2 linked regions of the Homo sapiens genome follow. The protein of the gene in region 1 interacts with the protein of each later gene in a pairwise test. Each region holds a gene or a part of one and is shown in the gene's direction. Other genes may lie near its edges.

Region 1 (15,255 bases):
CCTCCAGAACCTCCTCTCCCAATAGAGCCACACGAGACAACCCCAGAACATCCTGCGCCCAGCGGGACAATCCCAGAGCCTCCTCTCCCAATAGAGCTGCACGAGACAACCCCACAACATCCTGTGCCCAGCGGGACAATCCCAGAGCCTCCAGAACCTCCTCTCCCAATAGAGCCACACGAGACAACCCCAGAACATCCTGTGCCCAGCGGGACAATCCCAGAGCCTCCTCTCCCAATAGAGCTACACGAGACAACCCCACAACATCCTGTGCCCAGCGGGACAATCCCAGAGCCTCCAGAACCTCCTCTCCCAATAGAGCCACACGAGATAACCCCAGAACATCCTGTGCCCAGCGGGACAATCCCAGAGCCTCCTCTCCCAACAGAACCACCCAACAAGACAGCCCCAGAACATCCTGTGCCCGACGGGACGATCCCAGAGCCTCCTCTCCTAACAGAACCATCCAACAAGAGAACCCCAGAACATCCTGTGCCCTACGGGACAATCCCAGAGCCTCCTCTCCCAGCAGAACCATCCAACAAGAGAACCCCAGAACATCCTGTGCCCAACGGGACGATCCCAGAGCCTCCTCTCCTAACAGAACCACCCAACAAGAGAACCCCAGAACATCCTGTGCCCGACGGGACAATCCCAGAGCCTCCTCTCGCAACAGAACCATCCAGCGAGACAACCCCAGAACATCCTGTGCCCAGCGGGACAATCCCAGAGCCTCCTCTCCTAACAGAACCATCCAACAAGAGAACCTCAGAACATCCTGTACCCGACAGGACAATCCCAGGACCTCCTCTCCCAATAGAGCCACACGAGACAACCCCAGAACATCCTGTGCCCAGCGGGACAATCTCAGAGCCTCCTCTCCCATCAGAGCCACCCAACAGGACAACCCCAGAACTTGTATTCAACAGAACATCCCCAGATCATCTTCTACCCAACAAGACAACCCTAAAACCTCTTGTACCAAACGAGATAACCTCAGACCCACTTGTACACAGCGGGACCGCACACAGTCCTTTTCCTTTCAACGAGACAACCCTGGAACCTCCTCATCTCAATGCTGCACCCAAAAGGAGAATCTGAGACCATCATCTCCCCACCGCTCCACTCAATGGAACAATCCCAGGAATTCATCTCCCCATCGTACTAACAAAGACATCCCCTGGGCCTCGTTTCCCCTCCGGCCAACTCAGAGTGATGGTCCCCGAACCTCTTCCCCATCTCGCTCCAAGCAAAGCGAGGTTCCCTGGGCATCCATCGCCCTCCGGCCAACCCAAGGTGACAGGCCTCAGACATCCTCTCCCAGCAGGCCAGCCCAGCATGACCCACCCCAGTCCTCCTTTGGCCCCACCCAGTACAACTTGCCATCCCGGGCCACCTCTTCCTCCCATAACCCAGGCCACCAGAGCACCTCCCGAACTTCCTCACCTGTGTACCCCGCTGCCTATGGGGCTCCCCTGACCTCTCCTGAGCCCTCCCAGCCTCCATGTGCTGTGTGCATTGGGCACCGGGATGCCCCTCGAGCCTCTTCGCCCCCTCGCTATTTGCAGCACGACCCCTTCCCCTTCTTCCCAGAGCCCCGCGCCCCTGAGAGTGAACCGCCCCACCACGAGCCTCCCTATATACCACCTGCTGTGTGCATTGGACACCGAGATGCCCCCCGGGCGTCCTCGCCCCCCCGCCACACCCAATTTGACCCCTTCCCCTTCCTCCCAGACACATCAGATGCCGAGCATCAGTGTCAGTCCCCCCAACACGAGCCCCTTCAGCTCCCTGCACCTGTGTGTATTGGGTACCGAGATGCACCCCGGGCCTCCTCCCCACCACGCCAGGCCCCAGAGCCTTCCCTCTTATTCCAGGACCTCCCCAGGGCCAGCACAGAGAGCCTTGTCCCTTCCATGGACTCTCTGCACGAGTGCCCCCACATCCCCACCCCTGTGTGCATTGGGCACCGGGATGCACCCTCCTTCTCATCCCCACCACGCCAGGCTCCTGAGCCATCCCTCTTCTTCCAGGATCCCCCTGGAACTAGTATGGAGAGCCTGGCCCCCTCCACTGACTCTCTGCATGGCTCCCCAGTGCTGATCCCCCAAGTGTGCATCGGGCACCGGGATGCACCCCGAGCCTCCTCCCCACCCCGCCACCCACCCAGTGACCTAGCGTTCCTGGCACCCTCACCTTCACCGGGCAGCTCTGGGGGCTCCCGGGGCTCAGCGCCTCCCGGGGAGACCAGGCACAACTTGGAGCGGGAGGAGTACACTGTGCTGGCCGACCTGCCCCCACCCAGGAGGCTGGCCCAGAGACAGCCAGGGCCCCAGGCGCAGTGCAGCAGCGGGGGCCGCACCCACAGCCCTGGCCGTGCAGAGGTGGAGCGCCTCTTCGGGCAAGAGCGCAGGTGAGCCCGGGGGTGGGGTCAGCCAGGTGGGCTGGGGAGGAGGCTCGGCAGCAGGACAGGTGAAGGGTTAGGGTGCCAAAAGAAAGTGTTCAAATCCCCCTGGCTTGCCATTTACCGGCTGTGTGACCTTGGGCAAATCGCTCCATTTCTCTGTTTCTGCATATTGGGAGTTTTCTGTTTTGTGTGTGTGTGTGGTTAAGTGATGTCATGCACAGCCCAGTGGTTAACAGCAAAGACTGCAGTCAGGAGGGCTGAGTCCAAATCCTGGGTCAAAGCCACATGTCAACTCGTATGACCTGATATAGTGAGTTAACCTACCTGAGCCTCAGTTTCCTCATCTGTAAGGGAGGGGAACATGAGCACATTCATTCAAATAAGGGTGAACTGTCTTTTTATTTTTTATTTTTTGTTTTTTTTTTTGAGGTGGAGTTTTGCTCTTGTTGCCCAGGCCGGAGCGCAATGGTGCAATCTCGGCTCACTGCAACCTCCACCTCCTGGGTTCAAGCGATTCTCCTGCCTCAGCCTCCCGAGTAGCTGGGATTACAGGCACGTGCCACCACACCCGGCTAATTTTTTTGTATTTTTACTAGAGACGGGGTTTCGCCATATTGGCCAGGCTGGTCTCGAACTCCTGACCTCAAGTGATCCACCCGCCTCGGCCTCGCAAAGTGCTAGGATTACAGGAGTGAGCCACCGTGCCCGGCCAAAATGAGAGTGAACTCTCAAACCCTTTGATCCAGACTCATGGGTTTTTTTTTTTTTTCTTCCGTGCATGAGGGAGAAGAAGAAAGTACCCATGATTTTTTCCTGCCTTGGCAAAGAAAACTCATGGGTCCCTATGCATTTCAGAAAACAGTTATGTCAATTTAAAATGTATGGCCAGGGCCGGGCACGGTGGCTCATGCCTGTAATCCCAGCACTTGGGGAGGCCGAGGCGGGCGGATCACAAGGTCAGGAGATCGACAGCAGCCTGGCTAACACGGTGAAACCCCATCTCTACTAAAAATACAAAAAATTAGCTGGGCATGGTGGCGGGCGCCTGTAGTCCCAGCAACTCGGGAGGCTGAGGCAGGAGAATTGCTTGAACCTGGGAGGCGGAGCTTGCAGTGAGCCGAGATCGTACCACTGCACTCCAACCTGGGTGACAGAGTGAGACTCCATCTAAAAATAAAAATAAAATAAAAATGTATGGCCAGAGCTACCTATTTTAAGAAAGAAAGCTCACAGAATTATGGATTTTTAGCAGTCAAACATCCTGGGACACCTGAAGTCCAGGTGTCTTTTGAGTCTCCTTGGTCAGCAGCACTGGCCCCCTGGAAGGGGAGCATTTCCTCCTGATCAGGCTGAGGTTTCTCTCCCCAGAAGTTCCAGCCCTCGAGTTTTCAAGAATCAGAGCTAGAATTCCATTAGTTAGGGTCAAGAGAACAACAGCAACAAAAAGCAGTCTGGAAGTCTCAAAACTTTCCATGTATATAATTCAACGAATTTTTAGTTTATTTACCAAGTTGTCCAACCATTGCCACAATCTAACTTTAGAACATTTTCATCACCCTAAAGGGTATGGAATATTTTGTATCTAAAATTCCTCTTTGCTGCTCCTTGGGAAAGTTTTCTCCTGGATTTGAATCTGCATGAGAAACCTTATCAGTCTTGGCTGGGTGCAGTGGCTCCCTCCTGTAATCCCAGCACTGGAGCTTGCAGTGAGCCAAGATCATGCCACTACACTCCAGCCTGGGTGACAGAGTGAGACTCCGTCTCAAAAAAAAAAAAAAAAAAAAAAATTAGCCGGGCATAGTGGCACACGCCTGTAGTCCCAGCTACTCAGGAGGCTGAGGCAGCAGTATTGCCTGAATTTGGGAGGTGGAGTTTGCAGTGAGCTGAGATTGCGTCATTGCACTCCAGCCTGGGCAACAAGAGTGAAACTCCATCTCAAAAAAAGAAAAAAAAGAAACTTTATCTCTTGTTCTTCAAATTTCCTTTTCCAGTAAGCTTGATCATTTAATATCCAGATGACAACCGTGTGGTCTCCAGCATTAGTATAATTCTTTCTTTGGCCTTAAAAACAAAAACCCAGAGCAGTTTTAGGTTTACAGCAAAATTGAGCAGAAAGTGCAGTGTTCCATGCACAGCCTCTCCCACTACCAATATCCTGTACTAGATAGGTATGCTTGTTTCCAGCTCCTGGCCTCAAGGGATCCTCCTTTCTTGGCCTCTCAAAGTGCTGGTGAGCCACTGTACTGGGCAGTAGGGTGATACATTTGTTACAATCCATGAACCTACACTATGAAATCACCCAAAGTTTAGGGTTCACTCTTGGTGATGTACAGCCTATAGGCTTGAATGAATGTATGACAAGTATCCACCATTGTAACATCATGGAGTAGTTTCACCCTGAAAGTCTTCAGTGTCTTTAACTTTTTTTTTTGTTTGGAGATGGAGTCTCGCTCTGTCACCCAGGCTGGAGTGCAGTAGTGCAATCTTGGCTCACTGCAACCTCTGCCTTCTGGGTTCAAGCAGTTCTCCTGCCTCAGCCTCCCGAGGAGCTGGGACTACAGGAGCATGCCGCCACATCCGGCTAATTTTTTTGTATTTTTAGTAGCGACAGGGTTTCACCCTGTTGCCCAGGCTAGTCTTGAACTCCTGAGCTCAGGCAATCTACCCACCTCGGCCTCCCAAAGTGCTGGGATTATAGGCGTGAGCCACCGTGCCTGGTCTGACCTTTTTTTTTTTTGAAACAGGGTCTTGCTTTGTCACCCAGCAGTAGTGCAGTGGCGTGATCATGGCTCACTGCGGCCTCAAACTGCCAGGCTCAAGCGATTCTCTCACCTCAGCCTCCTCAGTAGCTGGGACTACAGGCGTGTACCACTATACCCAGCTAATTTTTCTACTTTTTGTAGAGATGGAGTCTCACTTTGTTGCCCAGGTTGGTCTCAAACTCCTGGCCTCAAGCAATGCTCCCACCTTGGCCTCCCAAAGTGTCTTTGACCTTTTTATGATTACTATTTCTTGTCTAATGTCAATTTTCCTAACTTTGTCTTAACTAATAACTCAGCAGGGACATTAAGGTCTTTAAGCCAAAGTTAATTAATTTTCTTTCCTTTTTTCCAGGATAATTTCAGAGAGATAAGGTGTTTATATTAATAATAGAAATGAGAAATATGTTTACACTTTTATTAACCATTTGTTTTTACACGATCACTCCTATACATTTAATTCTACTCTCTTTGAAATAGCTTATTTACCTTTTAGGGAAGTTTTCATAATTTTACTGAATAATTAAAATTTTTCCTCTTATCTGGCACCTTTTCCAAGTAGAAAACCATTCATCCTCTGAATATGGAAAATTTTAAAACTGTGCAGTGTGTGTGTAAGGGACAGACTGGAGCTTATGAGCGGGTGGCTGTAGGAGTGTGCTTTTATTTTCTCCTATTTCCTCATCGATATGTATTTATTGAGCATCTACTCTGTCCAAGCATTGTCCCGAGTCTGGAAAATTTTTCTTAAAGGGTTGTCACATCAAAGCATTGGGAGTTTTGGCTTGATCTTAATTTTTTTTTCCTTAGATGCCTTTGGCATCTCTTAGAGTCACGTAGCATCCTGTGGTCATTTGAATTCAAAACCTAGCCTTCACTGGATTTGCTAGACTTGATGGCTTTGCTCCTTTAATTCTCTCTGGAGGTCGAAGAACCCATCTAAGCTTCCGAAGGAAACGTTTCCTTTGTCATGCTTGGTGCGGCCACATCAACCCTCGGGAACAGGTGGCCCCGAGGAGACGCTGTTGCTTCAGCATCGGACAAGCCAGGTCTCTGTTGGGGTTTCAGAATCTTCTTGAGTCCCTCACTCTTTTCTCTCAGTTCTACATGGGGGAAAAAAGGAAGGCGAGTTCTCAGGAGGAATGCTCATCAAGCAAGCTGGAGTTCGTATGGAAAATGCATCCATCCGGAAGAGAACACACAAGTGCCTTGCTTCCCTGCACCGGGTGTTTCCACTATTGTCCTCCTGGTCCTCCCCATTAGGGAGGAACAGCCCACTGGGTCACGTCTGGGCTCTTGCTTCATCGAAGCTCCTATACCCCAGTTCGGGGGAAAATTCACTCTAAGGCCTTCAGCTCTCACAGAGTAAGGAAACGCACTCACCTCCAATTAGATTACAAATTGGCTGGGTGCAGTGGCTCATGCTTGTAATGCCAAGACTTTGGGAGGTCAAGGCAGGTGGATTACCTGAGGTCAGGAGTTCAAAATGAGACCAGCCTGGCCAACATGGTGAAACCCCGTCTCTACTAAAAATATAAAAATTAGCTGGGCATGGTGGTGGACACCTGTAATCCCAGCTGCTCAGCAGGCTGAGGCAGGAAAATCACTTAAAACCAGAAGGCGGAGGTTGCAGTGAGCTGAGATTGCACCACTGCACTCCAGCCTGGGTGACAGAGCGAGACTCCATCTCAAAAAAAAAAAAAAAAAAAAAGTTACAAACAGCCTGCCCAGGGAGCCCTCAAGCTCAGAAACACTTCCTCCAGGGAACTTTGGTTCCTCTCCGAACCAGCTGCCAATAACTGCTAACAACTAACATTATTGTGCTTTATGGCTCTGATTCTAATGACATTGGCAAAAGACATGAAACAACAAAAAACTCCAACCCCATACTTTTTTTTTGAGACAGGATCTTGCTCTTTCACCCAGGCTGGAATGCAGTGGCATGATCATGGCTCACTGCAGCCTCAACCTCCCAGGCTGAAGCGATCCTCCCACCTCAGCTTCCCAAGTAGCTGGGACTACAGCCACGTACCACCATGCTCGGCTCATTAAAAAAATTTTTTTTTCCTAGAACAAGGTCTCATTCTGTTGCCAGGGCTGTCTCAAACTCCTCGACTCAAGTGATCCTCTGACCTCAGCCTCCCCAAGTGCTGGAATTACAGGTGTAAAGACACTGTACCTGGCCTCCCAACCCCATATATATATATATATATTTTTTGAGACAGGGTCTCACTATGTCACCCAGGCTGGAGTGCAGTGGCGCGATCTCAGCTCACTGCAACCTCCACCTCCTGGGGTCAAGCGATCCTCCTGCCTCAGCCTCCTGAGTAGCTGGGATTACAGGCACGTGCCACCACGCCTGGCTAAGTTTTGTATTTTTAGTAGAGATTGGGTTTCACTATGTTGACCAGGCTGGTCTCGAACTCCTGACCTCAAGTGATCCACCCACCTCAGCCTCCCAAAGTGCTGTGATTAGAGGCATGAGCCACCACACCTGGGCTAATTTTTGTATTTTTAGAGACTAGGTTTCACTATGTTGTCTAGGCTGGTCTTGAACTCCTGAGCTCAAGCCATCCGCCTGCCTCAGCCTCCCAAAGTTCTGGGATTACAGGCGTGACCCATTGCGCCCTGCCCAATCCCATACTTTTGAAGGTGTCGTTCCAGCATGGCTCCTCAGGCACAGGCCCACCACAGACAGCAGGGCCTATGGAGGCCTGAGCAGAGTTTCCTCATACTTCCCTTTTTGCTGCCTCACTCTGGGTCCACCACAGGGTGGCCTTTTTCAGGCTTCTCTTCCTGGTTCAGTTCATCGACCAAAGACATGGCTCCATTTGCTAACTGAGACCCAACCAAAATAAACATTCATGGAGTGGTTGGGCCTTTTGTTGTGACCCCTTAGGTAGAGGAAGGGAGAGATATGCCCAGGTTCTGTTTGGTGTTTCTACCTGTCAATAGAGATACCACGTTAATCATTAACAGCCATGCCTCCCAGTTAGTAAGCAAGACAACTAACTGGAACTAGACTTTTTACACAAGTTAGAGATGATCTTCATCGGATGCGTCAACAATGCCTGAAGCCCAGTGTCTTAGAAACAACACTTGCCCAGGGTCAGGCGTGGTGGCTCATGCCTGTAATCCCAGCTACTTGGGAGATTAAGGCAGAGAATCACTTGAACCCGGGAGATGGAAGTTGCAGTGAGCCGAGATCGCGCCACTGCACTCCAGCCTGGGTGACAGAGCGAGACTCCATCTCAAAAAAAAAAAAAAAAAAAAGACACTTGCTTGGACAGTTTATGTTGGCCTCTCTGAAGTTGTCAGGGAGAATGTTTCTTTCTTCTGATCTTGCTCAGAGCTCTTTTGCCAACAGCTAGGATGGCCTGGAGTTTTCAAGGCTAAGCGCTGGGATTCTGTTGGTTAACAGTGATGGGAGGGAAAAAGGAAAAGAAATCCAAAATTTACAATATGGACAGGAAAAGGCAGAAAGAATGGAACACGGGGGCACACAGCAGTCTGGCTCTGTCGTCCCACCTCGTGGGCTGCGATCATGATACAAGTGCTTGGCCCCTGGAACATAAGAAGCACTCAATAAATGCTTTGTCATAATGATTATGTGTGCCCAGTGCCTGGTACACAGTAGGTGCTCAATAAATCTTAATTCCCGCAAAGACCAGTCTAACCTTTGTCTGGGGGTGGCTCTTGGGCTGCTGGTGGGGTGGTGGTTAGTCATAGGAAGTACTGGATGAGACAGGAGAGGGCCATGGCCAGGGCCAGATCCCCCTCCCCACCCAACCGCCTCTACTCCCCACTTTTCTCGTCATGTTCGCAAGAGCCTCATGAGGCAGAATAGAGCAGTGTTAACCATCCCCATTTTTCAGAAGGGGAAACTAAGGCCCTGAGAGTCATCCTCACTTAGGGCCCTTCAACGAGCTTGCAGTGGGTCCCTGGCTGTCCCACATCTCCTCCTGTTGGAGGTGGGAGCAGAGGGGCTGGGGTGCTGGGAGTGGGACAGTCCCTCAGAGGAGTGGCTGCATTTGCTCATAGGAAGTCCGAGGCAGCGGGGGCCTTCCAGGCCCAGGACGAGGGACGGTCACAGCAGCCCAGCCAAGGCCAGAGCCAACTTCTCCGAAGACAGTCCAGCCCTGCCCCCAGCAGGCAGGTGAGCACTGCCAGCTGTCTGGGGCCCCGCACCCCAAGGGGCGGCCACTGCCTCTTCCCTCCCGCTAGAAGCCAGGCAGGGGGCTTGGACAGGAAGGTCCTCTATGAAAGGGTCGGAGTCCAATCATGGGGATCCAGCTCTCCCCTCTCCCCAACGGCCAGCAGCTCTTGGCAAAATGCACAAGACCCCACATTAATCCTTTGAAGATAGCCCCTCTCCCACGCTATCCCCTTCCTTTACTAAGCACTGCTGTCTTTTTTTTTTTTTTTTTTTTTTGAGATGGAGTCTTGCACTGTCTCCCAGGCTGGAGTGCAGTGGGACAATATTGGCTCACTGCAACCTCTGCCTCCCAGGTTCAAGTGATTCTTCTACCTCAGCCTCCCAAATAGCTGGGATTACAGGCGTGTGCCACCACACCCAACTAATTTTCGTACTTTTAGTAGAGACAGGGTTTCACCATGTTGGCCAGGCTGGTCACTCCTGACGTCAAGTGATCCGCCCACCTTGGCCTCCCAAGGTGCTGGGATTACAGGCGTGAACCACGGCACCTGGCCAATACTGCTGTCTTGAGCAGATTTCAGGGAAAGCCTTGAAGCAAGAATCTGGCTCTAAGGGCCCTCTCTTTCAGGGTAATTTGTATCTTTAACCAAACCCAGAGGGCTAGGCCCGCCTCAGTGGAATGGGGTATTGGTGGTGGAGGTTCTGGCACCTGATAGCCCAAGTTGGAATCAGTATCTTTGAGAGGGGTGAGAAGCCAAGAACGGGGGCAGGTCTTTGCAGATCTTTTTCTGGAACTGAGGAAAGCGGGTGAAAGGGAGGAGCTGACCCCGGAGGGGTGGGGCAGAGACCCTGTGTACTTTTTGGCCTGCTTTGATTCAGGCTGCTGTGTGGACACAGCCTTGACTCTCTGGGGGCCTAAGAAAGGCAGAGCTGGCAGCCAGGTCCCCAGAGAGAGAGCCTCACCTACCCCCTCACCTCATCCCCAGGTGACCATGCTCCCTGCCAAACAGGCAGAACTGACCCGGCGGAGCCAAGCAGAGCCCCCTCATCCTTGGAGTCCTGAGAAGAGACCTGAGGGAGATCGGCAGCTCCAGGGGTCCCCGCTGCCCCCCAGGACATCAGCCAGGACCCCTGAGAGGGAGCTGCGGACACAGAGACCTCTGGAGAGTGGCCAAGCAGGCCCAAGACAGCCTCTGGGGGTGTGGCAGAGTCAGGAGGAACCGCCAGGGTCCCAGGGCCCTCATAGACACCTAGAAAGGAGCTGGAGCAGCCAGGAGGGAGGCCTGGGCCCTGGGGGCTGGTGGGGATGTGGAGAGCCCAGCCTGGGGGCAGCCAAAGCCCCGGAGGGAGCATGGGGGGGCACTTCCAGGGAGTACAAGGAGAGCTGGGGGCAGCCAGAGGCCTGGGAGGAGAAGCCCACTCATGAGCTCCCCAGAGAACTAGGAAAGAGAAGCCCACTCACGAGCCCCCCTGAGAACTGGGGAGGCCCCGCAGAGTCCTCACAATCCTGGCACTCTGGGACACCCACTGCTGTGGGCTGGGGGGCAGAGGGAGCGTGTCCATACCCGCGTGGCTCTGAGAGGCGACCCGAGCTTGACTGGAGGGATCTGCTTGGCCTTCTCCGGGCACCAGGAGAGGGGGTCTGGGCCCGTGTCCCCAGCCTGGACTGGGAGGGCCTCTTGGAGCTCCTGCAGGCCAGGCTGCCCCGCAAGGACCCAGCTGGACACAGGGATGACCTGGCCAGGGCTTTAGGGCCAGAGCTGGGTCCCCCAGGCACAAACGATGTCCCTGAGCAGGAGTCACACAGCCAGCCAGAAGGCTGGGCCGAGGCCACCCCAGTCAATGGACACAGCCCCGCACTGCAGTCCCAGAGCCCGGTCCAGCTGCCCAGCCCTGCCTGCACCTCCACCCAGTGGCCAAAGATCAAAGTGACAAGAGGACCAGCGACCGCAACTCTGGCAGGCCTGGAGCAGACGGGCCCCCTGGGGAGCAGGAGCACTGCGAAGGGCCCCAGCTTGCCAGAGCTGCAGGTAAGGAGGTTTCCACCCTCCCAAGGGTAGCCAGAAAGTCAGCCCCACTCAGCCAAGTCTCCTTGGAAAAGCCTCCCCTTGGAGTAGCCTAAGCTCCTGCATCCCCCTCCAGGCTCAGACCTCAGCCTCCCTGCTGACCACAACCCATCCCGATCACCAAACTGGCCCAACAATGATGATGAGCAACACAGTTTTAAGCGTTTATGGGCCAAGCCCTGATCTGAATGTTTGACGTGTGCTTTTCCCATTTAGTCTCCTTAGCAACCAGGTGAGAAATACACTATTTACAGATAAGGAAACTGATGCGCAGGGTGAAGCCACTTGCTGGTGGGGCATGGGCAAAACCCAGGTCTGCTCAGTGCAGACCACACTGAGGCCTCAAGCAAGATGCTCTGGCCAGGGCCTATTCCCCTCCTGGCTCCACCATACCTGGTTTATGTTGTGTCTGGTGGCACACACCTGACCCCACCTGGGACTGTAGCCAGTGTGGGCATGCCCCTTCCCCTGGTGGTACTCAGGTACCTGAGTCCAGGACAGCCTCGCTTACCCTCTCTGGCCCCTACAGCTCCTCTCAGACACAGAGAAGAGGGTGCATCAATGCTCACTGGGTTCAGCTAGCTGCCAAGACAGGCTGCTTAAATGAGGGTCGTGTGCAAAGTGGGCCCAGCGCCGGGCACACAGTAGGTGCTCGCCCTTCCCCTGCTTCACTGGTGCTTTGGTGCTGCCTTGAAGCCCAGAACATTCTTCATCTGAAGATGGTGGGCAGGGAGGGTCTTGGAGGCCAGAATCCTGCACCCTGGCAATAGCTCATTGGGAGGACGGCATGTGGTTTTGAACACCAGCCTCTCTCTCTCTCTGTAAGATGGACCAACCACTTCTCTGACGGGCAGCGCTGGGGTGCCGTGGGGGTTCCTGCTTGTTTCTCCAAAGCCTCCTCATCTCCTAGATGCAAAGTCCAACGCCACCTGCCCCAGGATGAGCAGGGCTTCCAGGCATCAGGGTGCACCCCGTGCTGGGCCCAGGGCCTTGCCATATGTGCCTCAAGTGGATAGGAGGCAGCTGCCACTTGACAGATGGGGAAACTGAGGCTCAGACTCCTTAGGCATTTGCTGGGGGTCACACATGCATAGGTCGTGAGAAATGAGATCAAAGCATCCACTCCAAAGTTTGTGCTTTTATTTTTATTTATTTATTTACTTATTGAGACGGAGTTTCGCTCTTGTTGCCCAGACTGGAGTGCAATTGCACAATCTCAGCTCACTGCAACCTCCGCCCCCCAGGTTCAAGCTATTCTCCTGCCTCAGCCTCCCGAGTAGCTGGGATTACAGGCATGTGCCACCATGCCCGGCTAATTTTGTGTTTTTAGTAGAGATGGGGTTTCTCCATGTTGGTCAGGCTGGTCTTGGACTCCTGACTTCAGGTGATGCATCCACCTTGGCCTCCCAAAGTGCCGGGATTACAGGTGCGAGCCACCATGCCCGGCCTAAGTCTGTGCTTTTAGCCACCACGTCACAAAGCTCCTGAGCCCATGGGAGGACTGGAGAACCCTCTCCCCTGTATTTCCCTGTGGCTTTGATGAGTTGACCCTCCAATCAACTCAATGCGTGGACATCAGAGAAGCAGGGATAAGTCAGCTCGTCCTGCCCTCAGATTGCTGTCAGGCTTGTTAGGAAGGCACACAGACAGCTCAAGGAGGACACGGTGCTGTGTCCCGGGGCATGCTGGGTGCCACAGGCCGGCCAGGTCAAGAAGGAAGTTAGAAAGATTCTTCAGTTTCATGGTGAAGCTCAGGGTTCTCAGGAGGCTAGGAGATGGTGGCTGGGAAGGGATGGGAGCACCATGTACTGAAAGGAATTTCACAGATGACAAAACGAGTAACCACCAGGTCCTGCTGGGGCTCCAGCTGCTCCTCTCTATGAAAATCCTTGGCTTGGCACAGCTGGGTGCAGTGGCTCACATCTGTAATCCCAGCACTTTGGGAGGCTGAGGCAGGCAAATCACGAGCTCAGGAGATCGACACCAGCCTGGCTAACACGGTGGAACCCCGTCTCTACTAAAAATACAAAAAATTAGCCGGGCGTGGTGGCGGGTGCCTGTAGTCCCAGCTACTTGGGAGGCTAAGACAGGAGAATGGTGTGAACCCGGGAGGTGGAAGTTGCAGTGAGCCGAGATCACGCCACTGCACTCCAGCCTGGGTGACAGAGCGAGACTCCATCTCAAAAAAAAAAAAAAAAAAAATCCTTGGCATGGCACTCAAGGCCGGCTTCCCTTCCTTCCACTCCGGATTTGCCTCATTGGTGCTGAGCTGGCTGCAGGGCCTGTGAGCACATATCCCTGCCTTTGCACATGCTCTTCCCTGTTCAGCCACCAAACGCCTGTTCATTGTCGAAGTCTTAGGTCAGGCTCCCTGTCCTGAGAAGCCTTCCCTGAACAGTCACTCCTAGTAATGGTCCCCTTCTGGGCTTGGCAGTTTTGCTTCCATTTGTCCATGCAACATCCATCTAATAGGGTTGTCATTTCCCCATAAGCTCCACACAGGCAGGATCTCTACCTGCTTTATCTCTGTAACTCTAGCTCTGGCCCAGGGCCTGACATAAAGGAGGGGACAGCTCAGTGGATGCATGCAAGATGGAGGACACAGGGGTCAGTGGGTGAACAATGAATGAATGGAGGGTGAATGTGTGAATGGATGATGGATCAATGATGCATGTTGAATGAATAATAGACATCTTTTGGATGGATGACAGATGGGTGATGATGGATGGATAGCTGGGTGATGAATATATGGTGGTGGTGGATATATGATGGATGTTGCTTAGGTGATGGATGGATGAACTTTGGGTGGAATATGAATGGATAGATGTGGCATGGGTGGATGAATGTCAGATGATAGATGTTGGAGATATGGGTAGATGGATGATGGATGGAGAGAGGGATATGTAGGTATTGGGTAAATGGATATGTGATGGATCAATGGAGGGTAGATACATGAATGGGTGATAGACAATGGATGATGGGTACATGAGAGGGTGAGTCATGTGATAGACACTGGATGGTTGGATGGATACATGGATCTACTGATGCTGGACGTTAGATGGGTGTTGCATGGACAGATGATAGAATGGATGGATGAGGTGGACAGATGCATGCATCCTGGAGAATAAGTTGGGCTAAGCTGTGTTCTTTTTTTAATCTCCAGTTCCAACCAGAGGAGCCTGAGGAGTCAGAACCAAGCAGAGGCCAAGACCCCCTGACTGACCAGAAGCAGGCAGACTCGGTAGCTGGGTCATGGGTGTGGGTACATACGGTGGGGAAGGGAGGGGGAAGCAGGTTGGAGATGGGCTTCATTCCTCAGAAGAGCCCTAGAATCAACCAGACCAAAGTTGGCATTGCCATGGGGTCATCTATGTGCATGGTGGGGCCTTAAGAAGAGGGGCTCTGCAGGAGCCACCTTCTGGCTTGGGGACCTGGGTAGGTGGGCGATCCTGGGGTCAGAACCCTAGGCCATGCTTCTCATTTGCTGGGACTGAAAAGGTCAATGTCTTTCCCTGCGCAAATGATGGTTTGGCCCCAGTGGTCTCTGTGGGAAGAGATCCTTCCGGTTTGAAAGGGCCAGGCCAGGCTGAAAGAGCAGGGCTTCCACGAGCAGGAGCCAGAGAGCTGAGGATGTACCCAGTCAGCCAGGCCTGGAGGGTCTCCAGGGTCCTGGAGGCGGGAGAGATATGTGCGGGGGTGGGACCCACGGATGCTGCTCTGAGGCCTGGCTGCAGCTGGTGAGCACAACTCTGCCCGCCCCTCCCCGTGACCTACCAAACAGACTGTTCTCGTCACCCTCAGCCTCCAGAGAGGTGAGATCAGAGTTGAGGGCCGTGGGGCAGTGGGAGGTGGGGGAGGAGGAGACAG
Region 2 (15,460 bases), on another chromosome or scaffold:
TTGCTCCATCTGTGAGATGCACCCTTCTATAGAAGTAAAATTGCCTTGCTGGGAACATTTATATCTGAGTGCTATTTCTTTTGTGGCACCGAAAATTTATTTCTAACACTTAGACAGTAACTGAGCCCCGGGGCGTCTGTGGGCGTAACATCCCCCGCTGGGCTGATGTGAGGCCCTTCTTCTTCTTCCCTCCTCTGCAGGTGTGAGCCTGGCATTGTGGGCCTGATCCTTCCCCTGCCCAACTCACTCCTGCTCCCGGTCCCTGTTATCTTTCTCAGGCATTGCCCGCAGTATTCCTCTTATGCTTCCAACTCCTGGGACTCTGCTTCCTGAAGGACCCAACCAACACAGTCGCAGGATGACTCCTCTGTGAGGTCTTCCTTACGTCCCCTTCTCCATGATCTCTGGGTGGCTGTCACCCTGTCCCCAAGGCCCCGGGGACAGCTCTTTCTCTGGGCCCTCCTGGTCGTGGTTTTTGGGCAGCTTGCTCTGTAAGTGTGGGTTCTCACTTAAATGAACCTGTGTGCTCTGAACCTGTGTGCTCTGGAAGACACAGGTCAGTTCCTCTCTGTGGGGATCCTCTGCTGGGTTGAGCTCCTGCACTGAGTGGGATTGCTTCATACATTGGCTTGTTTTGTTGCAAATGTGTGCAGCCGCCTGGGGACTGGAAGCTGTGCTCTGGAGGCAATGGAGAGGGTCCACTGAGAAGGGAATTGGCTGAGGCTAGATGGGTCTGTGTGGGCAGAAAGAAGTCAGTCTAGGTGAAGGGGAGGAGTGCAAGAAGGAGCACTCTGTGGCCACAGGGAGGATGGGTTACAGTTCAGTACAGCCAGCACTGAAGGCTGAGGGTCACAGGGAGGATGGGGTCCAGTTCAGTACAGTCAGCGCTGAAAGCTGAGGGTCAGAGTAGGCCTGGATTGGGTTTGAATTGGGGCAGAGGATGCCATGGCAGGGTCTTAAGAAAAGGAGGAAAAAAAAAAGTTAAACAGACAGAAAAAGTCAGAGATGAATGCTCTCTGGACAGGGGATTCCCTGCTTCCCCTTTCTTGGGCCGTGGCCAGTGTTGTCCGGAGTGTCCTGCCTTCCATCAGGGTGCTCTGATGAGAACAGTTGATTCCCCCGCCTGTCGGAGGAGGCCTGCCGTCCCCAGGGCTCTGCCTGGTGCTGGCCTGCTCTATGCCTGCAGCCCTGCCAAGAATGATGCCCATGCATCTTAGTGGCTGACTGCTCATATTGGTAACCATGTTTTAAAGAGGACTTTCCGAAAAAACAGTTTTCAAGGTTGGAGATTTGGTGTTCGGCTGAAAGAATTTCCATCTTCAATCATGAGATCTGAAGCTGAATGGGCTTTGGAGATGATCTGGTTGGGAACTGAGCCCCCTTGTCCCTGACAGTGGCTGTGTTTCCGCCTCGGGGAGGGCTGGCCCAGACCCCAGGGGTAAGGTGACAGCCTTCTGTGGGTGAGTAGGGATCCCTCCCTGGGGAGGGCTGTGCCCTGTGCCCCCTGCCCCCTCCATAATGCCAAAGAGGCGGCAAATCTTGCCCCTGCCTTCCCTCTCAGACCAGAGTGCTCTGCAGGGCTGGGCGGGGGACGCCTTGACCTTGGAGGGCTGTGCTGGGAAGGGAAGGCCTTGGGCCTGGGGTGTGTGCATGGGGGCCTGGGTGGTGAGGGCAGGGGTGACTGAGCGGAAGTCCCTGACTCTTTATAGCCCAGCCCGGGGCTGTTCAGTGTGAGCTGGAAGTACCCCACCCTTGCACTATGAGCAGCTTCCTTCCTGCCTGCTGGCAAGGACGGGTGGGGAGCGGGGAAAGGAGGGAAGGGAGGCGGGAGCAGCGGGAGAGGGGCGGGGAGCAGCTGCCGCCAGGCCTCCCCCTCCCGAGGATGTAACTCATGCTGAGTGCTGGGGGGCGGAGAGATTTGCTCAGCTTCCAGATTGCAGAATTGGTGCTGAGCCTTTGGTGAGGGCGTTGGGGCGGCTTCTGGGATGCTGAGGGTTCCGGGCTGTGGACGCGGTTGCCGGTCTGAAGGGGCTCCTGTGTTGATCCTGGGCGCCCCCTGGTAGCCCCAGCCCTTCTTGAGACAGCCACATGAGGGCAGCAGAGAGCCGAGGAGGAGCGATTTCAGCACAATCGTGGGATCAGACACCACGAAGGGAGGGGGAGACCCAGGGGATAGGAAAGGAGCCAACGGCATCGGGTGGTAGGTCTACACCAGCCATCTGGGGTCCCAAGGTGGCTCATTTGGGCCCACCCCCAGAGGAGCAGATTGGGACAAATCTGCGCCTCCCTGCTTCCTGCACAGACCACATGGGGTGTGTCAAACCGAAGGCTCAGGAGGTATCTTCACATACACACGTACACGCACACACATACATCCATGCATGCATGCACACTTTCTTACACATATATCCATGCATGCATGCACACACATACACATATATACATGCATGCATGCACAGTCACACACACATACATCCATGCATACTCTCTTACACACACAAATGTTTCGGGGAACGTTTGATTTCCCCACAAATTCATAAGTTGAGATCCTAGCCCCCAAGGTGATGGTGTTAGGAGGCGGGGTGTTTGGGAGGTGTTGAGATCGTGAGGGAGGAACCTTCCTGAATAGGATGCGTGCCCTTAAGAAAAAAACCCCAGAGAGATCCCTCACCTTTCCATCATGTGAGGACACAGTGAGAAGGCGCTGTCTATGAACATGGGTCCTCACCAGACCTTTCCATCATGTGAGGACACAGTGAGAAGGCACTGTCTATGAACCGTGGGTCCTCACCAGACATGGAATCTGCCAGCACCTTGATCTTAGACTGCGGCATCCAGAACTGTGAGAAATAAATTTATGTTGTCTTTAGGCCACCCGGTCCTTGGTGTTTTCTTACAGCAGCCTGAACAAACGGACACACACACATACATCCATGCATACGTGCACTCTCTCTCTCTCTCTCACACACACACACACACACACACACACACTCAGGGCAGTGGTGTTGAAGGAAGAATCTAAACCTGAAGGTTGATCAAGGCCTGGAGATTCTTGCATTTCCCTTGGGAAGGTGGAAGTTGGTCCAGACTCCCAAGAGCCCCCAGAGGCTGGCAGACCCCTGCCACTGCCAGGGTAAGGTCTTGGGTTTCCAGGTCACTGGGTCTGTCAGCCAGGAGGCAGAAGCGTCTCTGGAAGAGGTTCACCAGGCTCTGCCCCAGGGAGCCCACCTGAGGGCGGGGCAGCATCTCCCTGTGCCCCCTCCCTGCTCCCCAGCTGGGGAGCTCCCCCCCTCACAGTTTTGCAGTTGTCCATGGGTTGTGCATCCTGGGCTCCCTCACTGACCAGCCTCCTCATCTGGGCCCTGCCCCTCCAAAGCTAATTTGGGCCAAGAGCATCTGTGTGGATATGAAGGCTTTCCCATCCGTGGGAACTTGAAATTTCCTCCTTTTTTTTTTTTTTTTTTTTGAGATGGAGTCTCGCTCTGTTGCCCAGGCTGGAGTGCAGTGGCGTGATCTCAGCTCGCTGCAAGCTCCGCCTCCCGGGTTCACGTCATTCTCCTGCCTCAGCCTCCCGAGTAGCTGGGACTACAGGCTCCCGCCATCAAGCCCAGCTAATTTTTTTGTATTTGTAGTAGAGATGGGGTTTCACCGTGTTAGCCAGGATGGTCTCGATTTCCTGACCTCATGATCCGCCCGCCTCGGCCTCCCAAAGTGCTGGGATTACAGGCGTAAGCCACAGCGCCTGGCCGAAATTGTCCTTTATTCCGGGGATCCAGAGTGAGAACGAGGGGGTTTCAGGGGCAGGCTGAGGCCTCCTGAATGCTCACCATAGGTGCCCTGTCTTGGGCTCTGAAGGCCCTACATACAAAGTCATCCTATCTGCTGAGGCAAAGATATAAGGTTACCTCGGACTTGAGACGGATGGTTGTCAGGGATCCATCTGACAGGCCCTGCCCCCTTCCTGCCTCCTCCTGTCTCCCTCTCCTGCCACCCTCAGCCTGGCCCAGTTTCCTGGCATGGTTGCTGTGGCGCCTCTTGGGAATCGGAGCTTTGGGCCTCAAGTGTGCCCAGCATGGAAATTCCACAGCAACTGTCACTGGGATCGTCTGGACAGAACCCTCTCAGGTGCCCCCAGGAGGGGCTGGGCCCTCTCTCCAGACCAGGGTGGGAGGAGCAGCCTTTAGAGCCCCCTGCTGATCTGTGAGATGTGGAAATCCTGACTTCAAGCCCTGGAGAACCTTCAGTCATTGGTGACTTGTCTTTTTTCCTGCTCTCCCCAAATGGATTACATGCCCGACTCCCAGTGACCTCCCAGAGGCGTCCCTGACATATTTGCTGTTGATGATGACCTGAGGCTTCCGAGGGGCTCCCAGGAAATGGGGTTCCCAGTCTGTCGTCTGGTTTCCTAAGCACCAGCCCCGTCTGCGCTGGGCACTGCTGAGCCGGGCACTGCTGAGCCGGGCACTGCTGAGCCGGGCACTGCTGAGCCCACTTCCTAGAGGAGATGTTGTTCTGCTGCGCGGATCCAGAAGGGGGAGCTCTCAGGGCCTGTTCTTCTTCAGCCGGGAAAGATCGAATGCGCTCTTCCTGGACATTTAGCGCCCCAGCATTGCAATAGGCCTCTGCCGTCACCTTCACACCCTCACTGGCTCTGTCTGGCCCTGCACTGGACTGCTGGTCCCCCAGAGGGACAGAGATGAGGTCCTGACCACAATTCTCAGCTCAGCCAAATTCTCCCTAAGCCTTCCTCCCTTGCGAAGCCTTCCTCCCTTGTGAAGCCTTCCCTTATCCTTCTGGCCTTAAAACGATTCCTTCAGACCCTGAAGTCAAAGCATTCATGGTCTGTCCGGGCGCCGTGGCTCACACCTGTAATCCCAGCACCTTGGGAGGCCCAGGTGGGAGGATCGCGTGAGCCCAGGAGTTTGAGACCAGCTTGGGCAACATGGGGAGATCCTGTCTCTATTTTACAAAAATGAATAACATTTTTAGAAAAAGAAAAAGCATTCATGGTCTGCACCACTTCTTAGACTTGGGATCTAGGACTGTGTAACTTCTCTTGTCAGCTGCCATTATTTGTATTTGGCTCCTGTAATATTGTCTAATCATGGGTGAAAATATTGTCTTCTCAACGAATTGCAAATTTTGTAAGGCCAGGGACTGTATTGTATATCATATATTTCCTTAGGAACACTTCTCAGTGGGGGGCACATAGAAAGCTCTGGATAATTGTTTGTGGGTATATCAGGGAGAAGATGGAGTGGGAGACCTGTTTGTTTATTGTTTTTGTTTTTGTTTTTTGAGACAAGGTCTCACTCTGTTACCCAGGCTGGAGTGCAGTGGTGCTATCACGGCTCACTGCACCTGGGCATGGTGGCTCATGCCGGTAATCCCAGTACTTTAGGAGGCTGAGGAGGGTGGATCACTTGAGCCCAGGAGGTCAAAACCAGACTGGGCAACATAGTGAGACCCTGTCTCTGAAAAAAAATGCAAAAATTAGCTAGGCATGATGGCGCACACCTGTAGTCCCAGCTGCTTGGGAGGCTGAAGTGGGAGGATCACTTGAGCCCGGGAGGTCAAGGCTGCAGTGGGCCATGATTGTGTCACTGCACCCCAGCCTGGGAGACAGGGTGAGACCCCATCTCAGAAAAAGAAAAGTTAACAGGTAGCTGCAGCCTTGACTTACCTGGCTCAAGCGATCCTCTTGCTTCATCTTGCTAAATAGCTGGGACTACAGGTGTGTGCCATCACACCCAACTAATTTTTTCTTTTTGTAGAGATGAGGTCTCGCTATGTTGCCTAGGCTGGTCTTGAACACCTGGGCTCAAGCCATCCTCCCGCCTCAGCCTCCCAAAGTGCTGGGATTACAGGTGTAAGCCACCGTTCCTGACCATGCAAGACCTATTTGAACCTGAGTTCTCTTCTCAGGTCCTTGGTGTTGGCTGACTCAGCAGCTGATGATCCTTGGGATGGGCTAGGATATGAAGCTAGTGTTGGGTTAGCATTTTTATTCCAAGCTGGGGTAGGCTCTTAATTCTGCCCGATATCAGCAGAATGAACAGCAAAAGTTCTGGAGAGCTGACAGAGCAACCTCTGTATCTGGAGTTCTCTGGTCTCTCTCTCTCTCTCACACACATATCTCAAATTTCTTTAGCTCTTGTTATATGTGGTATGTAATCTCCCACCTGGCCTGGTGTGGTGGAAAAATCACTTAACTAAGAACCAGGAGACACTATTTTATGTCCAGCTCCATTTCTAACTTGTGGCACAACCTTGAGGCGGAGTCCTTGTCACTGTGAATATCTGTTTTATTGTCTAATATATGAAAGTGTTTGCTTCTGGCTCTAATATTTCATAAAGCAACAGAAACTCCCAAAGGAAATCCCAAGAGTTGCAAGTGTAAAGTTCAGGGGTTTATTCATATCTTTTCCTGATGGCTGTCAGAGGAGTGAGGGAGGAAGGCACACTCTGAAAGCACATGAGACATGGTTTTCTCAGCATTGACTGGCAAACCCAGCTCTTGCTTCACCCCGTGCTGCCTCCAGGAGCTACTGTCCAGCTCCAGAGGCATTTTCAGGATTTGGGGTGACCATCTAATGCACTGTGTCCTGAAGAGTGCCTCAGTCTTGTCACCTGGGCTGCCCTCCCTGGTTTTCTGCTGAGCCTGCCGTAAAGTATTTTCAGCACCTTGGACAGAGACAAAGCTCCAACCTGGCTGGAGGCATTGAGTAGCCAAGTGAGCTTGGGATCTCCTCCAGGGCCAGCTTTCCTGGCAAGGTTGCCCAAAGCATGTCTTGGTTCTTCATATTTTTTAATCCTTTGAAGGCACTCAAAAATAAACCCCCTAATATATGTCAAAACAGTGCACTAGTTCTGCAAACTCTCAGGGCATTTTTTAAAACAAAACCAACCTATTTTCTAGAATAGTGTTAGGTACACATTAGGTGCTTAGTAAATACATTTAAAAAGGAATACATGCAAATTCAACCTTCAGACAAATGTCCCAGCCTCCTTATAATAGGATTCTTTCTCCCCATCAGTCCCTCCTATATAGTAATTCTGGAGCTTCTAGTACTTGCTAAGTTTTGCAGCCTCACTTGAAGCCCCTTCTTGTGTCTAAAAATCCCAGTCTTTAAATCAAAGGAACAGATGACTATTAAGTTTTCAGGCAGAGGAAACTGAAACTGGCCCCTTCTCTTTCTCATCTGGGGGTAAGTATAGATTGGTGGGGAAACCCACACCTGACTCCTCTTGGGATCTTGCTTTATGAAGATGTTCACCACCTTCCTTTGTACCTGAGAAAGCCCTTACCATGCAGAAGGACCAAAATCGCCCAGGAAATTTTCCGAGCTGACCCAGCCCACTCAGAGCCCTCCTTCTTCTGAACACCCCTCCACGTATCCTCAACATCACCAGATTGTTCTTCTGACATTTCATATCCAAGTTTTTTCATGCCTATTGGTTCTTTTCCCGGTTAGATAATGAATTCCCTGTGTTTGTGGTTTCCAGTTAGATGCTACTGTGATGCAAACACAGCAGATAAAATGGGAGATTGATCAGTCTTGGGGGCTTCTATCTTGTCCTAAGGGGTCTCCTGCACCACTTATTTTTAGTCTGACATAAATATGCAGGATGGATCATGGTGCTATTTGTGGAGTAACCATTGGCTCCAAGTGCACCCAGGATGAGAGAGCAGAGGCAAGAGGTGGAGGTGAAGATGGCTATTGAGGAGAAACAGAGGAACCACTCATGGGTGGGTGTGTTGCTGTGTGGAATTAAGGAATCACTCACTGCTAGAGCTGGACGGGATCTCAGAGATCAGCTTGTTTGGTCTCCTCATTTTACAGGTAAGGAAAGTGAGATTTAGTGGTACTCCTAAAGTTACACAACAAATGGGCCCTTTTCCATCACCTCTGACCTGGTTCAAGTGTTGGGCATCTCTCCCTTGGACTATTGTATTGCTCTATGTGGCAGATGATATTTTCCCAAGGTGGTCGTGCCAATACATATGCTTTTCTTCCAGTGTGACAGCAACACCCCTCCACTGAGAGGTGGGGGTCTGTGTTTGTTCTCCTTGCATCTGATGGGTCACGATTACAGCAGAAGTTGTTTTATGTGATTTTTTAAGGCTAAGTTATTCAAGGAGATACAGCTGCTGACTGGTCTTCTCTTGGGACACTGGCCCTTGGAACACAGCCACCATGCTGTGAGGGAGCCAAGTGGCCACACAGAAGGGCGTTGTGTAGCTGTCTGGCCCCAGTCCTAGCTGAGGTCCCAGCCAACAGCCAGCACCAACCACCAAACGTAAGTAGATGAACCTTCCAGTCTCTAGTTTGGAGTAAAGCAGAGAAAAGTGGTCCTGGTGGAAACTACCCCAGTTGCAAATCCATGAGCAAAATATATCCAACTAAACCACTGGATCTTGGGATGGCTGTTATGCAGCAATAGGTAATGGAAAAACCTCATATCCACCTCATTTTCTCCAAACTATTATACACGTTTCATTCAATCAACAAACCTTTCTTGGATACCTACTCTTTGCCAGGGTCTGTACAAAGACAGAATATTTACATTCATGGATTCTGCATTCAGCTGCCACTACTGTTTCCTTACTGTTTCCTGCCACTACTGTGTCCCCCTTGCAGAGATAATAAAATTCATAGTCCTCATCCCTCTGCAAATGGTGCCAGCCTGCTGCTCCACTGCCACCACATCAAATTATTTTGTCCTCAGACCCAATCTCCATTCTCCTTTCTTTATATATCCTTATGTTGTCTCTTCTATCTGCAATGCTTCTGCCCTGCCCCACCTCCAACGTTCAAGGACCTGCACTGAAATCTCCTTCCCTGGCAAGGCCCTCCAAGACTCCTCCGGTTGAAATTAACCAACACCTCCTCGTAATCCCACAGCACTGACTGCAGACTGCAGTTTCTGTCTGCCCACCGTCTCCCTCAAAACTCACTAGACTGTGAATCCCTGGAGGAGGGATCCTGGCTTATCCCTCTTGTCCCCCAGCAGTGTCTGGCACAGGGCCCAGTACTTAGAAAGCCCCCAGTAAACACTTGTCGATGCAACTAGTAGCAGAACCAGAATTAGAAGTCAGATCTCCCGAATCCTAGTCTCCAGGGCCTTACTTGCTTCTTTTGACACCACAAAGGCAGGGAAAATGTCCCACCAAAGGTGGGGATCAGGTTGTCCAGAGAAGACCTTGGAATGGACCAGGGGTTGGCAGGATTGCTACATGTGGAGCTGCAGAGGGCGATGAGTGAAGAGTGTCCTGGCTCTTGGCTAGGGGTTTCAGGCGGGTTCCTTCCATCCTTTCTTCCTTCTTTCTTTCCTTCCTACTTCCCTTCTTTCTATCAATAAGCCCTGATCATCCACTTCTGGAGGGGAAACATGCTGTTTCTTTGATTCTTTTCTTCTCCAACTCCAGTTCACATCTGAAAAAAATCTCTATTCTGGGGACCCAGTTGCACAGAAAAACAAAAAAAACCCACCGTGTTCAAGCATCAAGGGACCTGCTCACTCTGTTCTTCCTTCCCCAGGGTTTCCCAGGAACCATTGCTCTGTAACCTGTCTCTCCTGTGCCCAGCCGACTGGAACTGCTTCCCAATCCCCTGTGGGTAACCCCAGGCTCTCCTGGGCCTGACTTTGGTGGTGTCTTGCCTGGCCCGCTCCTTGGGGGACCTCTGGCAGAGTGGGCTTCCATTTCTCTTTCTCCTTCCAGGATGTCCTGGCTCCATGCCTTCGGACTGAGCAGGAGCAGAGAGCAGGGTGGGTAGGATGCTTTCTGCAGACTTTTCTCCCTAAATTGTTTCTTTTTGGGAGCTGGGAGGAGCCTGGATATCTCACTGTAGCCTCTCTGTTCCCTCAGTCACAGGCAGGGTGCGGGAGAGCTCTTCCCAGGAATGGTCTCTGAAATGGCTCTTGGAGCTGAGATGGGGGTGGGGCAGATTCTAGAGGCTTAACAGCCCAGCTCTTGGTATTAGGGTTGGGCACTTTTCTCTTTGTCCCAGATCTGGGGGTAGCAGAGGTGGGAAGTTGAAGGCAGTGGGGGCTTCTCCATCAGCTCATCTGAGGCCCAGAAATGTTGCTTTGGGGAGAGCTTGCCCCCTCTCACCGTTTCTCTTCCTCAGCTCAATTCTTGAGTGTGGGGGCGGCTAAGTGGGTCTGCCTTCAGGCTCTACCCTGAGCCTCCAAGGAAGTCAGAAATCTACATTCAGCTTTGACTTCTGAGTATGTGGAGTGGGCTGGGGGGAGAGAGGGAGAGATCTGTCTCTCCTCAGCTTGAGGGAACAGCTCTCTTCTTGCCTCTGTGCACAGAAGGAGGGCTACCCCGTGCCTGGGCTCCTCTCTGTTTGGGAGGATGAAGGGCTCCTCTGACTCCTGTCTTCCCTTTGGGATAAGAGCAGAGGCCTGTCCCAGCAACACGGGTACAGGAGTGGAGGACAGCTGGCCAGCTCAGATGAGTGGCTCCTTCCCTTCAGGGCCTGGCTCTCCCTCTCCCTTGGTCTGGAGAGAGGGGGAGGCTACAGATGTCCCTTTCCCTTCTTGCCCTCCCATGCCCATTCTCAGCTGCTGGCCTTTGCTCACTTTCTCTCCATCCCCTGGCCTGGACAGGAGGACACTTCACTCACACATGAATCATCCTGGATTCATGGTAGGCAACCCAGCAGCCAGGGGTGGCCTTGGGGCGTGGCGGGGGCTGGGCCAGTCGTGGACTAGGTTCTACCCGGAACCCAGATGTGTTGATGCACCTGATGCCAAATGCTACACCAAGGAGGAGCTTGTGCTGTGGAAGGCCCTGGGCCCCCGGGGGGGTGAGTGAGGAAACTGCTGGCAGTGGAGAGGGCCTGAGGAATAACTGCACAGGCAAGAGCCTCTGGACTTTTTTAGCATCAGCTGTGGAGCCACCTCCTTCTCTCCCACTGGCTGCCTCCCTGAGTCACTGCCCACCCACCAGCAAATAAAAAAGAGTGTCATCTGCTGGCCAGTGGCCCCATTTGGCCCCAGTGTTTGCATCTTTGTGCTCCTGGGTGGAAGGTGAGAGTCCGGGTAGGGTGGTCTCACGACGACAGTTTTCTGCGCCTTCCTCCTTCGGGACTCCGATTCCTTCCCTGCCCTTTGTTCTTCCCCTCCCCCCATGATGGTTCTCGCTGGTGACAAGACCCAGCCCCTGCTCCAAGGACAGAGGCAGCTGCAAGCCCTCAGGAGCCCCCACATGGCCCCATCCATCTAGACAGGTCTCTGATCCGGCTGCAGGGAGGGGACCCTCGGCTGTTCAGCTGCGACTCCTCCCTCCCCGCCCGCCCACTCAGCTGTCAACACTCGCCTCCCCGCCCTGGCCTTCCCGGGGCCCTGCCTGACTGCTAAGTCCGAGGACACCGCGCCCGGAGACCCTCACTCAGACGCAAGCAGGCGATGAGCAGGCGGCGGGGCAGACACCCCGCCTGCCCTTGAGCATCCCTAGGCCTCCTTGCCTAAATAAGGGAGCCGCAGCTGGAGCGAGCCAGCTGGCCGGGGGGAGGGGCCTGCGGCTAGGCCAGGGCTTTCCGAGGGGCTGGGCCGTGGCCGCCGCCGCAGGGCCCCGAGCCCGCCGATTGGGCGTGCAAGGCTGGCCCCGGGCTGCCGGGGGAGGGCGGGCCGCTCGCACCCGGGGATCCCCTGGTTGGAACCTCGCGCTCAGGGACCTCTCTTTGATCCTGCAGCTAGGAGGCCGCAACTGCTGTCAGAATGTCCCTCTCTGTGCAGCTCCTATGCAGAGCCCCACAGAGGGCTCTCTCTCTCTCCGTGTGTGTGTGTGTATGTGTGTGTGTGTGTGTGTGTGTGTGTGTGTGTGTATGTGTGTGTGTGTGTGTGTGTGTGTGTGTGTGTGTGTGTTGGGGCAGGGGGCGTGCCCCTTCTAAGTTTAACCCTCCCTTATTTCAGAGCTCTGCTGCTCTGGGGCCTTCAGATTGTCTTGCTTTTCCTATTTCCAGGGTCTCCCTTGACTCCGGGCTCGTCTTCGAGGGTCCAGGCGTTGCCCCGGTCACCCACAGTAGGCACTGAGCGCGTGCTGTGTATACCAAGCCAGTGCTCGGCGTGGTGGGGAACCAGGGCATAAGGACCCGCCGTTTCCCTTCAAATCAGGTTTCTTAGTCGCTAATCTGGGGTGGGGGTGGAATCCCTTCCCCCATCCCGGCCGCCTACAAGCCGGCCATGGCACCTGTCCTCACGGTTTCCCCTGCCTAAGGGTCCCTTCCCCCTCTTCTGGGCGCGCGAGTCCCAGGGGCTCCTTGGCAGAGCGAGGGGCTGGCGTTGGGGGAGCACTCGGCGCGGCTCAGCCAATGGGAAGGTCGGGCGCGCGCGGTGGGGCGGGATGGGGGGGGGAGAGGGCGGTGCTGCGGGCGCGCGGCAGGCGGGAGGGGGCCGGGAGGCGGGGGCCGGAGCCGGAGGGGCGCGCGCCGCATTAACCCTTCCGCGGCCGGGCCGAGCCGCAGGCGCTGCCCGAGCCGCGGGCGCTGGAGCGGCTGTCGGCGCGGTGGCAGGCGGGAGCCAGGAGTCCGGGGCTCGGGCGGGCGGAGCGCAGCGCGGGGACGCGGCGGAGCGGGCCCCGCGGCTCGGCGGGGGCCGGCAGACAGGTGTGCCGGCGGCGGGCGGCTCGCGCTCAGGCGGCTCCAGGCCGGGCCCGGGGTCCGGAGCGGGGAGCCGGGAGCCGAGCGAGGACCCGGCGCCCGCAGTCCAGTCTTGGCCGCGCCCGTGCTCGGCTTGGCCGCGGGGTGCGGGGACCACGGCCCGGCCGGGCCACCCGAAGCCTAGTGCTGGGCCGGGCCGGGCCGGGGTGGGTGGGGGCCCGCCCGGCCCGCCCATGGGCTCAGGATGCCGGTGCGGAGGGGCCACGTCGCGCCGCAGAACACCTTCCTGGACACCATCATCCGCAAGTTTGAGGGCCAGAGTGAGTGGGGGAGGGGGCTGAGCGGGGAGGGGGCTCTGGGGGCGGGCCGAGCTCTTCCGAGTGTGGATGGGGGGGCGTGCCCGGGCCGTGTGCGTCGGCAAGTGCGAGTCAATGGGGCCTGGTGGGCCCCAGGCTTTGGCGAGGGGACGGCGGGGGCAAGGCTTGGTGCACCGGGGCCGTGGGCACCGGGCCAAAGGGTTTGGGGTTGGGGCTTGGGGCGGGAAACTCAGCTCAGGCTTTTGGGATCGGAGTGTGTGTGACACGCTGAGTGTGCAGGGAAGGGATGTGGGATGGAGTGTGCAGGTGTCCCCAACTCTGGGTGCGTGGACGTGGATGGGGCTGTGTGCAAGGGCATAAGAGTGTGTACGACCCAAACCCTGGGATCCCGAGAGTCCAGCGCGCACACTGGTCTTGCCAGATCTTGACTGTGTTGTGCCGGAGGGACTGAAAAGCCGTGGATGCAGGGTCAGCTCATAATCTCTTCTTGTGTGTGCCGTGTGTATATAACCCTGAGCCCATGTGTCACCCGTGAGTTAGACCCTGTATGGGCGGTGGGGAGGTGTCTTTGACAAGGCTGCGAGCTTGTGGGCTCTGTGGAGACAGGGTGTCCTGGGGCTAGAGCTGGGCTTTGAGGGTAAGCAGCTCCCTGTGGTACCCCCAAGTTGTGGGTTTTCTTGCCCTGGAGACTGTCACCTAATTCCCTTATGGGGACCGGGAGTACAGCACCCCTAATGCCTGCCTGGTAGGGAGGCTTCTAGAAGGGTCCCAGATTAGGCAAATGTCCTGGGGGTGGGCAGCATTCATGTGCCTGTCCCTAAGGCTGCATGAGCCACAGTGGGTGTGACTGCCAAGGGCCCTGGGAGTTGGGAGAGGATGACATTCCTTGTCCATGACCCTGTGAGCACAGGACAACGCGTGCTTGTAACGGTGGTTGGGGGAAGGAGGGGTCAGTCCGATGGTCAGTATTGTGTGAAGCGGAGGAACAAGATGATCCTGAGGGGGTGGAGACAATGACACTGGTTGAGGGCCTCCCTGAGAGGTGGGGGTGGGCCCAGGGGGAGGCTGTGGGCGGGCCTACGAGGAGGCTGGGATGGATGTGGGGGGGGGTGCTGGATTCTAGCCCTACCTTTGCCACTGACTGCCATGTGACCTTGAGTGACTCTTCCCTCTTTGGGTCTCAGGTTCCAGGTCTGTGGAGGAGGGGCAGGCTTTCTGTCCCATCCCTGTATTCCAGGATCTCAGTGAAGGGTGTGTGGTGGGGTGGGGCATGCCTTCGAAGAAACTTGCTCTTCTTTCCCCAGCCTGGGAGAGAGGACAAGGGGTGGTTTTTCTTCTATGAAGCTGGGGTGTGTGGCTGGGCCTCTGGACTGCCTTGGACTGTGGCAGAGCTGGAGGCCGAGTTAGGGGGTCTTTTCAGGTGACAGGAAACCCTGACTCCTGGAATTGATGGCTGCCTGGGAGGTCTGGGGGGCCTTGGGAACTGGCCAAAAGATGAACCAGTTCCAAAAGGCAACTTTCTGGGGGCCAGGGGAAGGGAGAATCGAGAAAGGTGGGAGGAGGCCAAGTCCTGATGGCCTGGGCCTATCTCAGGGTGCCCTGCTGCAGCCCAGCTTTGCACGTAGGATTGCCTAGGGCTGCAACCTGAGGGCTATGCTTGCTGGGGAGGGGAGGGGAAGGGAGGGGGAGAATTCCAACTGCTACTGAAAGCCCCAGCATTACAGGCCAAAGTGGCCGGAAACTTCTGTTTATAAAAAGCTCTTATCCCAGGAGCATCTTGCCTGGCACAAGTGAGGCTGCTGCCTGCCTGCTGCTCACTCGCCAGCCTGGCTCTCCGGGCAGGCCTGGAGTCAGGGAGCCAAGTCTGGCAGAAATGGAACCATGGGGGTGCTCATCCAGGATGAGGCCAAACTGAGGAAGGCCTCACATCCCTGGGCAGGTCCCCTTTCTTGGGTCTGTTTTCCTACAAGTGGGGCCAAAGTCTCAGGCCCCGCCCAGGCTCCAGGTGTGTCCAGGGTTTGGAGCTGCAGGTCCCTCTCTTTGCTTCCTATGACCTTGGGCTTCTGCCTGTGACCCTCAGCTTATTCTTCTGCCTCTGCCAGACCAAGGTTCAAAAGCTGGCTCTATCATTTACAAGCTGCAAGACTTGGGCATGGTGCCGAACTTCTCTGGAGCCTTGGTTTCTTCATCTATAAAAGGAGGATAATAACACCTACCTTATGGGGTTGTCAGAGGACCTAATGAGATGCAGCGTCCTTAGGTGTTCAACGTGTAACTTCCCTCATCCTCTCTGGCACACCCACCCCTCAGCTCCTGACTGCCCTTGGGGCGGGGGTGGTGTGCAGAAGTTCTAGGGGGTACTGACCTGGTAGGATCCTCAGATAATCGGGGAGTGATTTCCTAGGGAGCCTCAGGATAAGGAGTGGCTCAGGGAGCGCCCCCCAGTCTGGAGAGCAGGGAAATTAAAAGCAGAATCCAGAGAGCCGATGCAAAGGGAATCCTGGCCGCCATCTCTGGCCTTTCCCAGGCTCC

Evidence for each region.
Region 2: the proteins of TRIOBP (region 1) and KCNH2 interact in a two-hybrid assay, tested with the Homo sapiens proteins (one study listed by BioGRID).

Annotation. Positions count from the first base shown.
Region 1 is NC_000022.11:37,724,091-37,739,345, forward strand, and holds part of TRIOBP (TRIO and F-actin-binding protein), read left to right. Parts: coding exon 1-2,413; intron 2,414-9,207; coding exon 9,208-9,322; intron 9,323-10,308; coding exon 10,309-11,352; intron 11,353-14,517; exon of another isoform or gene 14,518-14,551; coding exon 14,552-14,629; exon of another isoform or gene 14,630-15,255.
Region 2 is NC_000007.14:150,975,309-150,990,768, reverse strand, and holds the start of KCNH2 (voltage-gated inwardly rectifying potassium channel KCNH2), read left to right. Parts: upstream 1-12,447; 5' UTR 12,448-12,855; coding exon 12,856-12,931; intron 12,932-13,413; exon of another isoform or gene 13,414-13,924; intron 13,925-14,010; exon of another isoform or gene 14,011-14,025; coding exon of another isoform or gene 14,026-14,179; exon of another isoform or gene 14,180-14,233; intron 14,234-15,293; exon of another isoform or gene 15,294-15,451; intron 15,452-15,460.